Regions from separate parts of the Homo sapiens genome. Here regions 1 and 2 are each linked to region 3. The links come from fine-mapping of genetic effects on gene expression. A gene starts in region 3. Each other region holds a variant in brackets. All regions are shown on one strand. Distances are between the middles of the regions.

Region 1 (2,770 bases), 180 kb before region 3:
TTAAGATGGTTCACTCACATGGCCGATAATTCCTACTGGCTGTCACTTTGCAGCTTGGCTAAGGCTGTGGTTCTGAGAGCTTTGATTTCCTTAAAATGGGCTTCTCCATAGGTTGCTTGGGTTTCCTCACAGTATGGTGGCTAGTTTCAACAGCAAGCATTTCAAAAGAACAAAGGGGAAGTGAATTGCATTTTTATAACTTAACTCAGAAGTCAACTTAACATTGTTTCTAGTATTTTGGTTGAGGCAGTAGAAAGGCCAACTTAGATTCAAGAAAAAGGGGCATCGATTCCACATCTTAATAGACACAGCAGGAAGGTTTGAGAAGAAATATAGGCTAGGAGATGTGGTGGCCATCTTAAGACACTACAGTCTACCACCATGTTGGGAACTGATTGGAAGAGGACAATGAAAAGTGAAGAAGGAAGAGCAAAAGTAATTTAAGCAAAAACAATCTTAAATTGCTTTTTAGGATTACATACAATCTCAAATTGTATGCTTACTAGGGTTATTATCCTCCAAAAGTAATACTGTTATTAACTAGGGCTGTGGGGAAATATTGTTTGTATTATATGTTCCTAAACCCTAGGGTGTACTTCATTTCATTTGCTTTGTTCAGCACCTGGATTGTACATTAACAATGGATAATGCTTTGGAAGGGTGATGATAGTTTTCTAAAAGTTTTCAGAGACCTTTAATACTTAGGCTATTCTTACACATTCAACCGATTAAATTTTTTGGCTAAATGTACACATCAACTCAAACACCTGGTAAAGTTAGTAAAAAAAAAAAAATAAAACCGAAAAACAAATATAAAACCAATTACTGAAACCTGATGACTTTGTTTTTAAAAGGAAAAGCCCATGATTTTCTTTTTAAAGAAAATAGGAAGCCAATCATTCCAACTCACTATTATTATTTTAAAAGATAATACAGAGAATTTCCTGACTTAACTCTGATCCATTTCCAATTATAGGCTTCCATGTTTGAGAATACAAAATGGGCCCTGTGGAATCAGCTCTCTGTCTTAAGTAAATTTATTAAATATTTTTTAAAAAGAAATGACCACCAGAGTCCATTTGAAAAGTAAGCTTACTGTGGCAGTCCCAGGGTTAGCTGCAATGAATATAATGTGATGATAATG[A/G]CTATGATGAGTGGTAGCTAAGAAAATGTAGATAGAACAGTGTTCTAGGTTCCTTTTGGCTCATTTATCCCCATTGGCAATCACCCCAAAAGAGGGGCTCACACCCAGCTCTGCCTTGTCCATGTGAGTTCTTGGTTCACAAAGTCTCATACAGCAGAAGAATAAAGGGAAGGAGAATTGAAAAATCCTTTTCGGTGGTTTTGTTGCAAGCCTAAGTTTGTCAAACACTCTAGCTGCATATTTTTCCTAGAATGAAATATTCTCATGGCTGCCTAGATTTGTTGTTTTTGTCAAAGTTCAAATTGTATGAATCATGTAAAAAGGATATAATTAAATGTATAAGAAACTTTAATATTAGGAAAACAGGTGAGTGGCAAAGCACTGTTAACATATTCATGCATTAAGCAAATATTTATTAAATGCTTACAATGTGCAAAACAGTATCAAGTGATATAAGAAGCTTGTTCTGATTTAGATCAAACTTGGATACAAGAGTTGATCTTTCTTGTTGGTCCAGTATTCACTTTCATTCAGTTAAGTTTACAAAGCTGCACATTGCTTACAATTTGACTCATCGACTGGAAGGTTTTTATTATTGCTTTCTCTTTTCCCAGGCTTTTCATTGACTGTCTGAATACACACCATGAAATCAGCACCATTGGCTTCAAAGACATTTATTAAAACGATGCATTTGTAAGAAGAAATTTTATGAGATCTGTGGCTTATGAAGTCCTTGATCTATTTAATCCAGATGATTGGATCCTAATGTTTGCAGCAAAGACAGGCCCTAATGCTTATAGGTAAGATGAGAGAAGTTTTAAACTAATCAATTGCAACAGGGTGCACAGTTCCTTTTCGATGACTATGACCCTCACATTTATTACCTTTGTTTTTTTTTTTTTCTAGGTCCACTCAGCATAAAGTTAAAAGTGCTTACATGCTAGACAGCTCTCTTGGAGGAGTAGCCTGCAAAAACTATATCTTTAAAGGTTTATTTTCTGTGTAGCTATACTTGAGTGAATGTGTGTGTGTGTGTGTGTACATTCAAGATCTGTACATCTTATTCATAAAAATGAACCAATCAATATCTACCAAAGAAAAGTTCAAGAATGCAAATTTTTAAGAGCAAAAATGATAAAAACACAGAAAGAGCTTTTCTTAGGCAATGATCTTATCATTGAAAGACGTTTCAACACAGTAAAATAGATTTTGGCTGAGGAACAAAGACATTTATTAAGTACCTTCTATATCCACGTCAGGCACTGGGTAGTCATTGGAAAATCAAAGATGAATTAAGATTTGGCTCACACCTCTGGGAAGTTGTGGGGGGTAGGGAGGGGTTAAAGAACTTGACTCAGGTGTAAAGAAAAATAATGCACTAGCACATATGCTGTGGTAGTTACCTGCAGGAAGGAGTTGAGGAAGATACTTGAACTGGTGGTTGAAGCATGACTAGGGGTTTTCTAGGCAGAAATGACAGGACATTATGTTCCAGGAAAATAACCACAGGGACAAGATACCATGGAGGAAAAACACACACATGCAACCAAATTGCCAAACCCCAGGAGCCTGTAAGAGAAAGCAGCACAGGACAGATCAGGATGGTTCAGAGACTTGGACAGTGTA
Region 2 (2,770 bases), 130 kb before region 3:
AAAGAGGAACTATATGTATTGTTATTTTCCTTCTGAAAGAGGAAATATATGTATTGTTATTTTCCTTCTGAAAGAGGAACTATATGTATTGTTATTTTCCTTCTGAAAGAGGAATTATATGTATTCAGCAGGACTTTGGGAGCTCGGAGACCCTTATACGTAGGCACCTGTTTTTCCTGAGATGTTAGCAAGTATCCTTGGTGAACGAGGAACGTGCTGCTTTCTAATATACCATAAAAGAGGGTTTGTTTAGATTCTCTTTCAGGAAAAGAAGTTAGAGATTAGACATACTGAGGTTGTCCTAGCTTCGTGGAGAAAAAAAAAGTTTCTTAAAACTGCTTCCTTAAAATATGGCACTGTCCAAATTGAATCATTGTATTACACAAGTGCTATCTAGTTTTCAAATCTAAATGTAAACAGATGGGGGTGACAAATAGATTCAAACATCCTCAAAGTATGAGTACGGAGACTTAACAACCAAATAGAGGAAAGACTGAACCTATTAGTTAACCCTAAAATTAATCCACATTCTTAATTTTTTAAATATTTAGTATTTTTACTGTTTCCATGCATTCTAGGAATTATAAAACAAAAGCCCCAACGTGAAAACAGGGCTCTAGTTCTATTTATGGTTTTTCTCACTCAAAGACAGAAAAGACTGAAAGCATCTATAAGTCCTATTTCTCTAATTCCTGGAGAGTGATAAATATTTAGCCAAACACATGATTACTCATTTGAATGTTTCAAATAGACTGATGTTTTGCCAACATAGAAACCAAATCTAGTTTTGGGTGGTCATAGTTTTACAAGTTAGTCACTCACCAATAAGCATCCATGAAAATTGAGTTTATCATTCATGTACTAATTTATTTATTCATCAACTTATTTAATAAGTATATATTTAACGCCTATTATGTGACAGGCATTGTCCTTGCTGCCTGGATACTGAATAGTCAACAGAATAAATCTGATTCCTGCCCCCCAGGGCAAGAAAACAGCCTGTTGAGGAAAACAGATATGAAACAAAACGAAAGAAATAAAATATTGTCACAGAGGGCTGAGAAATAAAAGAGCAATATATTGATGAATAAAAACATATGCCATCATACGTAGATAAATTTGGAAGCATAAACATCTGTCATCATACACACGTAGATTTAGAAGCATTACCCTCTATTCCTTCTATAAGAAAACACAGATATTTGTTACCTAGAGCAAACATTTTGTAATCTGGCCCTGCAGTGTTATAATTTACTGTTTTGCTGGCCCCCTCATTCTCTCTATAAGGTTCCATGAGTGACTTGGGCACTGG[T/C]CTTCCCTACTTTCCCACATGATCAAGGGAATTCTCATTCTACAACAAGTCCTAAAAAGTCAAATCAAACTCCACTTCGACCAGTCAAGGCTATTGTCTCCTTGACCGACTACTAAGTTTTCATGCTGAATGGTGCATGCATCTCTGCAAATTGTTCTTCTTTATTCACCACTTTATGGCCCACTTTGTCACCTGCTATTATCTGCTCACTTCCCAGATTTTGCTCCTACCAGCTTTCTTGCTAATCAGGTTTTTTTTTTTTTCCCTGTTTCTAAACATACATCTCAATGTCTGGTGTGATCTTCACACATTTCCCAGTCACCTTCCTCAGCTAAACCTGTCTACTTGGCAGACAAGCACTTTGGAACTTCATATCTACTCTTTCTCATGACACTGACATATTCTTTTTTTGGCATACAAATGTCAACAGGTAGGATCAAATGGAAAAGAGGTGTGAAAGGTTAATTCCCCAATATCAGCATCAACTATAGGAAATGTATTTGCAGAGTAACAGCTAAGCGGAACTCCTTGAATGAACAGTGCTCTGTGACAACTATTGAATGAGAACATTTCTGTCACAATGAAGACAAAGGTTGTTTCAATGTCATGGGTCACTGGGTGAAGAGCAGAGAAAGCCAGTTCTTCATGCTTATACAAGAGCCCTTCAAACATGGGAAGCCAATGTTACAGACGAGGGTTTAGCCAAAGAATGAACAGTTGTTGCCAAAAATCAAAGGATTTTTTTTGAAACCCAATTTTTGATCTTAGTTAAATCCCTGTTTGGGATACAGGACCAATATCAGTCTGTCATCATCATGCACAAAGGAAACTATAAATTATAAACGCATCTACGTAGAAAACAAATAGAATTGTTATGTACATTATTAGGGAAATCATATTATCAGTGAGTTTGCTTCCAGAATGGAGGCTGTGTAAATAAATGGATTTTACAGGATGAATCTTTATTAAAAAAAATATTGTAGATCACCTGAGGTCAGGAGTTTGAGACCAGCCTGGCCAACATGGCAAAAACCCGTTTCTACTAAAAATACAAAAAATTAGCCAGGAGTGGTGGCGTGTGTGCCTGTTGTCCCAGCTACTCGGGAAGCTGAGGCAGCAGAATCACTTGAACCTGGGAGGTGGAGGTCACAGTGAGCTGAGATGGTGCCACTGCACTCCAGCCTGGGTGACAGAGGGAGACTTAGTCTCAAAAAGATAATTGTAAAATTGTAGGGGAGAAGAGATTTTTTTTTTCTCATCCATTCATTGTTCAATTCATGACTGAGACCCTGGTAATAAAAAATTAGATTAACAAGAGAAAAGCACACAAATCTATGTAGTATAAGTTTTACTTGACATAGAAGCCTTCAGAGATGAAGACCCCTGCCAAAAAAAAAAAAAAAAAAAAAAAAAAACAGGGAAAATTGTGCAGTTTTGTGGACAATTGTGCAGAAGTAT
Region 3 (2,770 bases):
TCTGTCCAATCAGAAATTTGTTATTTGGTGTGGAAAGGACTGATGAATCTCGGCAAGGTTTCTTTCCCCAAGTAAATCGCATTTGTTCTGGAATTTGTTTTGACCTCTCCTCTAACTTCTCCCTAAATGCCCATCTCTAACCACTACGGACCTTCACCCACTGCCCTGTTCTCCTTCCAAGACATGGGAGATGACAGCTGTGGCTTCTGTTTTCACACCATGACTGCAGTTGTCTAAAAGCCCTCCCAGTTCCTAATGAAAATCCCAACTCATAATTCAGGTTTTCTGCATCTAGTAAAGATCTCAAAGCCGTTCCCTAAATTCTACAATTATTGCCTGTTTATGTTTATGGGTCCCTTTGTTCAAATGTTTATACGCTGCCTGTGGGAAATCATCTTCTGATAATTTTTCTTTCTTCCTTCACAGAAGCACAGAGATGTCTCCTGTACAGCCCATTGCTGGCTGTTAGCACACCTGATATATGCTTGTTCTCACATAGTATGTCTGTGCAGCCACAGGAGGTTTTTATGTGGAACTTCCACACCAGTGTTAAAGACAGCCATAGCCACCAAAGAGATCCTTGTAAAATACAGGATTAGGATATACCACAGGAATTAATAATTCTCAAGCCACTGCTTTAAATTGTAGCCACATTGTTTTTGTAGGGAAGTTGCTCAATTTATATACACAGAACATGAAGGGTTGCATTCTGATCAGGACACCAGTTTCATTTAAGAACCCTATACCAAAAGGTACTTAGATAACCCTCTTTAATATGCACATACTATATTGCTTTGTGCAACATATTGCTTTGAGCAACAAATGATGCTAATTTTCTTGCTAATTTGATCCTCTCTGATTATTTTCTTCAACTCCTAAAAGTCTAAGTGAATACAATGAAAGAATACCATCTGTAAAAACTGTTTTTTAACATATTTTTCCTCAGAGTCAAGAATACATGTTTTTTAAAGACATTTAATAATGATATGGGTTTATCATTCTCTATCAAAAATAATTCCATTGGACATTATGCCAATTTTCTTCTTAGGGTCCCTCGACTAAATAGTAACTTTAAAAACATACTGCTAGTTTGCTATATTTTAGTAGGTCAGCATGCACACCAAAAGTGTATTAAGGTGGACTGCTCTATTTATTGATTTGCCATGAATCTGCTAAAGGCTCAAGGCAATTGTCTGTGGAAAGGGGCGGGAGGGCCATACATGATCGAGGTCATGCGCATCTAGCCAATTTGTAAGACGATCCCGCCGCCCTAAGCCATCAGCAATCCTTAGTATAGGGGCACACTCATGCATTCCTGTCAAGTCATCTTGTGAAAGGCTGCCTGCTTCCAGCTTGGCTTGGATGTGCAACCTTAATAAAACTCACTGAGGTCTGGGAGAAAATAGCAGATCTGCAGCAGATAGGGTAGAGGAAAGGGTCTAGAATATGTACACGCAGCTGACTCAGGCAGGCTCCATGCTGAACGGTCACACAGAGAGGAAACAATAAATCTCAGCTACTATGCAATAAATATCTCAAGTTTTAACGAAGAAAAACATCATTGCAGTGAAATAAAAAATTTTAAAATTTTAGAACAAAGCTAACAAATGGCTAGTTTTCTATGATTCTTCTTCAAACGCTTTCTTTGAGGGGGAAAGAGTCAAACAAACAAGCAGTTTTACCTGAAATAAAGAACTAGTTTTAGAGGTCAGAAGAAAGGAGCAAGTTTTGCGAGAGGCACGGAAGGAGTGTGCTGGCAGTACAATGACAGTTTTCCTTTCCTTTGCTTTCCTCGCTGCCATTCTGACTCACATAGGGTGCAGCAATCAGCGCCGAAGTCCAGAAAACAGTGGGAGAAGATATAACCGGATTCAACATGGGCAATGTGCCTACACTTTCATTCTTCCAGAACACGATGGCAACTGTCGTGAGAGTACGACAGACCAGTACAACACAAACGCTCTGCAGAGAGATGCTCCACACGTGGAACCGGATTTCTCTTCCCAGAAACTTCAACATCTGGAACATGTGATGGAAAATTATACTCAGTGGCTGCAAAAAGTAAGTGATTGCTTTCAGTTTCTAATAGCACGGACCTTTTTCCTTTCTTGCACTGCAGCTAACTTAAAGTTCCTTAGGGGAGCATTTGTGTATTTACCTTTTGCTCCAGGGGGGCAGTGTTTGCAATTGCAAGACGGCTGTCTGGGTTTGGCTTCCTGGGTAAGCCAAGGTTTGGGGGCTTGCCCAAACCTATGAATGTGTGGGGGCACCCCGTTTGTGTGTCTAGCCCTGGCAAATTTTATGACATTTTTGGTTTCTCTTTTCTAAAGTTCAGCATTAAGGTTCTCTCTGTCAAAACACTACCTTAAGAAAGAAAGTATGTACCTCTTAAGCAAGTTGGTGAAAAATAAATAATAATGACAATATTAATTAATAAGATCAAATCGATTTTGCACCAGAAAATTTTGTGCCGCTGGGGTGGCAAATCATCACAAAGTATTTGTTTTTTTAACCTTTATAAAAATTAACATGAAGTGAGAGTAAATATAAAATATGATATTTGGTTGGAGAAATTGTATATTTATGTAAAGGGAACTGTTAGTTTCAGCAAGTGGTAGAATAGTAGACTGATTTCTGTTAAATATTTTTTTCTTCTGTCCTTGAGAAAAAAAATTAAAAAGATACATTGTAATGTTAACTGTCGGAAAGGGGTTGCTCGCTCACGATGAGGGCATGCTGGCTGTTGAGGAAGACATGCACCTGCAGATAT

Evidence for each region.
Region 1: its variant is fine-mapped to the expression of ANGPT1 in whole blood (INTERVAL, PIP above 0.99).
Region 2: its variant is fine-mapped to the expression of ANGPT1 in whole blood (INTERVAL, PIP above 0.99).

What each region holds. Positions count from the first base shown.
Region 1 is chr8:107,672,741-107,675,510 of GRCh38, reverse strand. No RefSeq gene overlaps it. Among named protein-coding and RNA genes, the nearest start is that of ANGPT1, 180 kb to the right of the region's middle. The variant A/G (reference allele first, on the strand shown) is at 1,145.
Region 2 is chr8:107,629,873-107,632,642 of GRCh38, reverse strand. No RefSeq gene overlaps it. Among named protein-coding and RNA genes, the nearest start is that of ANGPT1, 130 kb to the right of the region's middle. The variant T/C (reference allele first, on the strand shown) is at 1,313.
Region 3 is chr8:107,496,553-107,499,322 of GRCh38, reverse strand. ANGPT1 (angiopoietin 1) reads left to right here and starts at 1,405. Exons shown (of 9, transcript NM_001146.5): 1 at 1,405-2,061. The coding sequence starts at 1,765.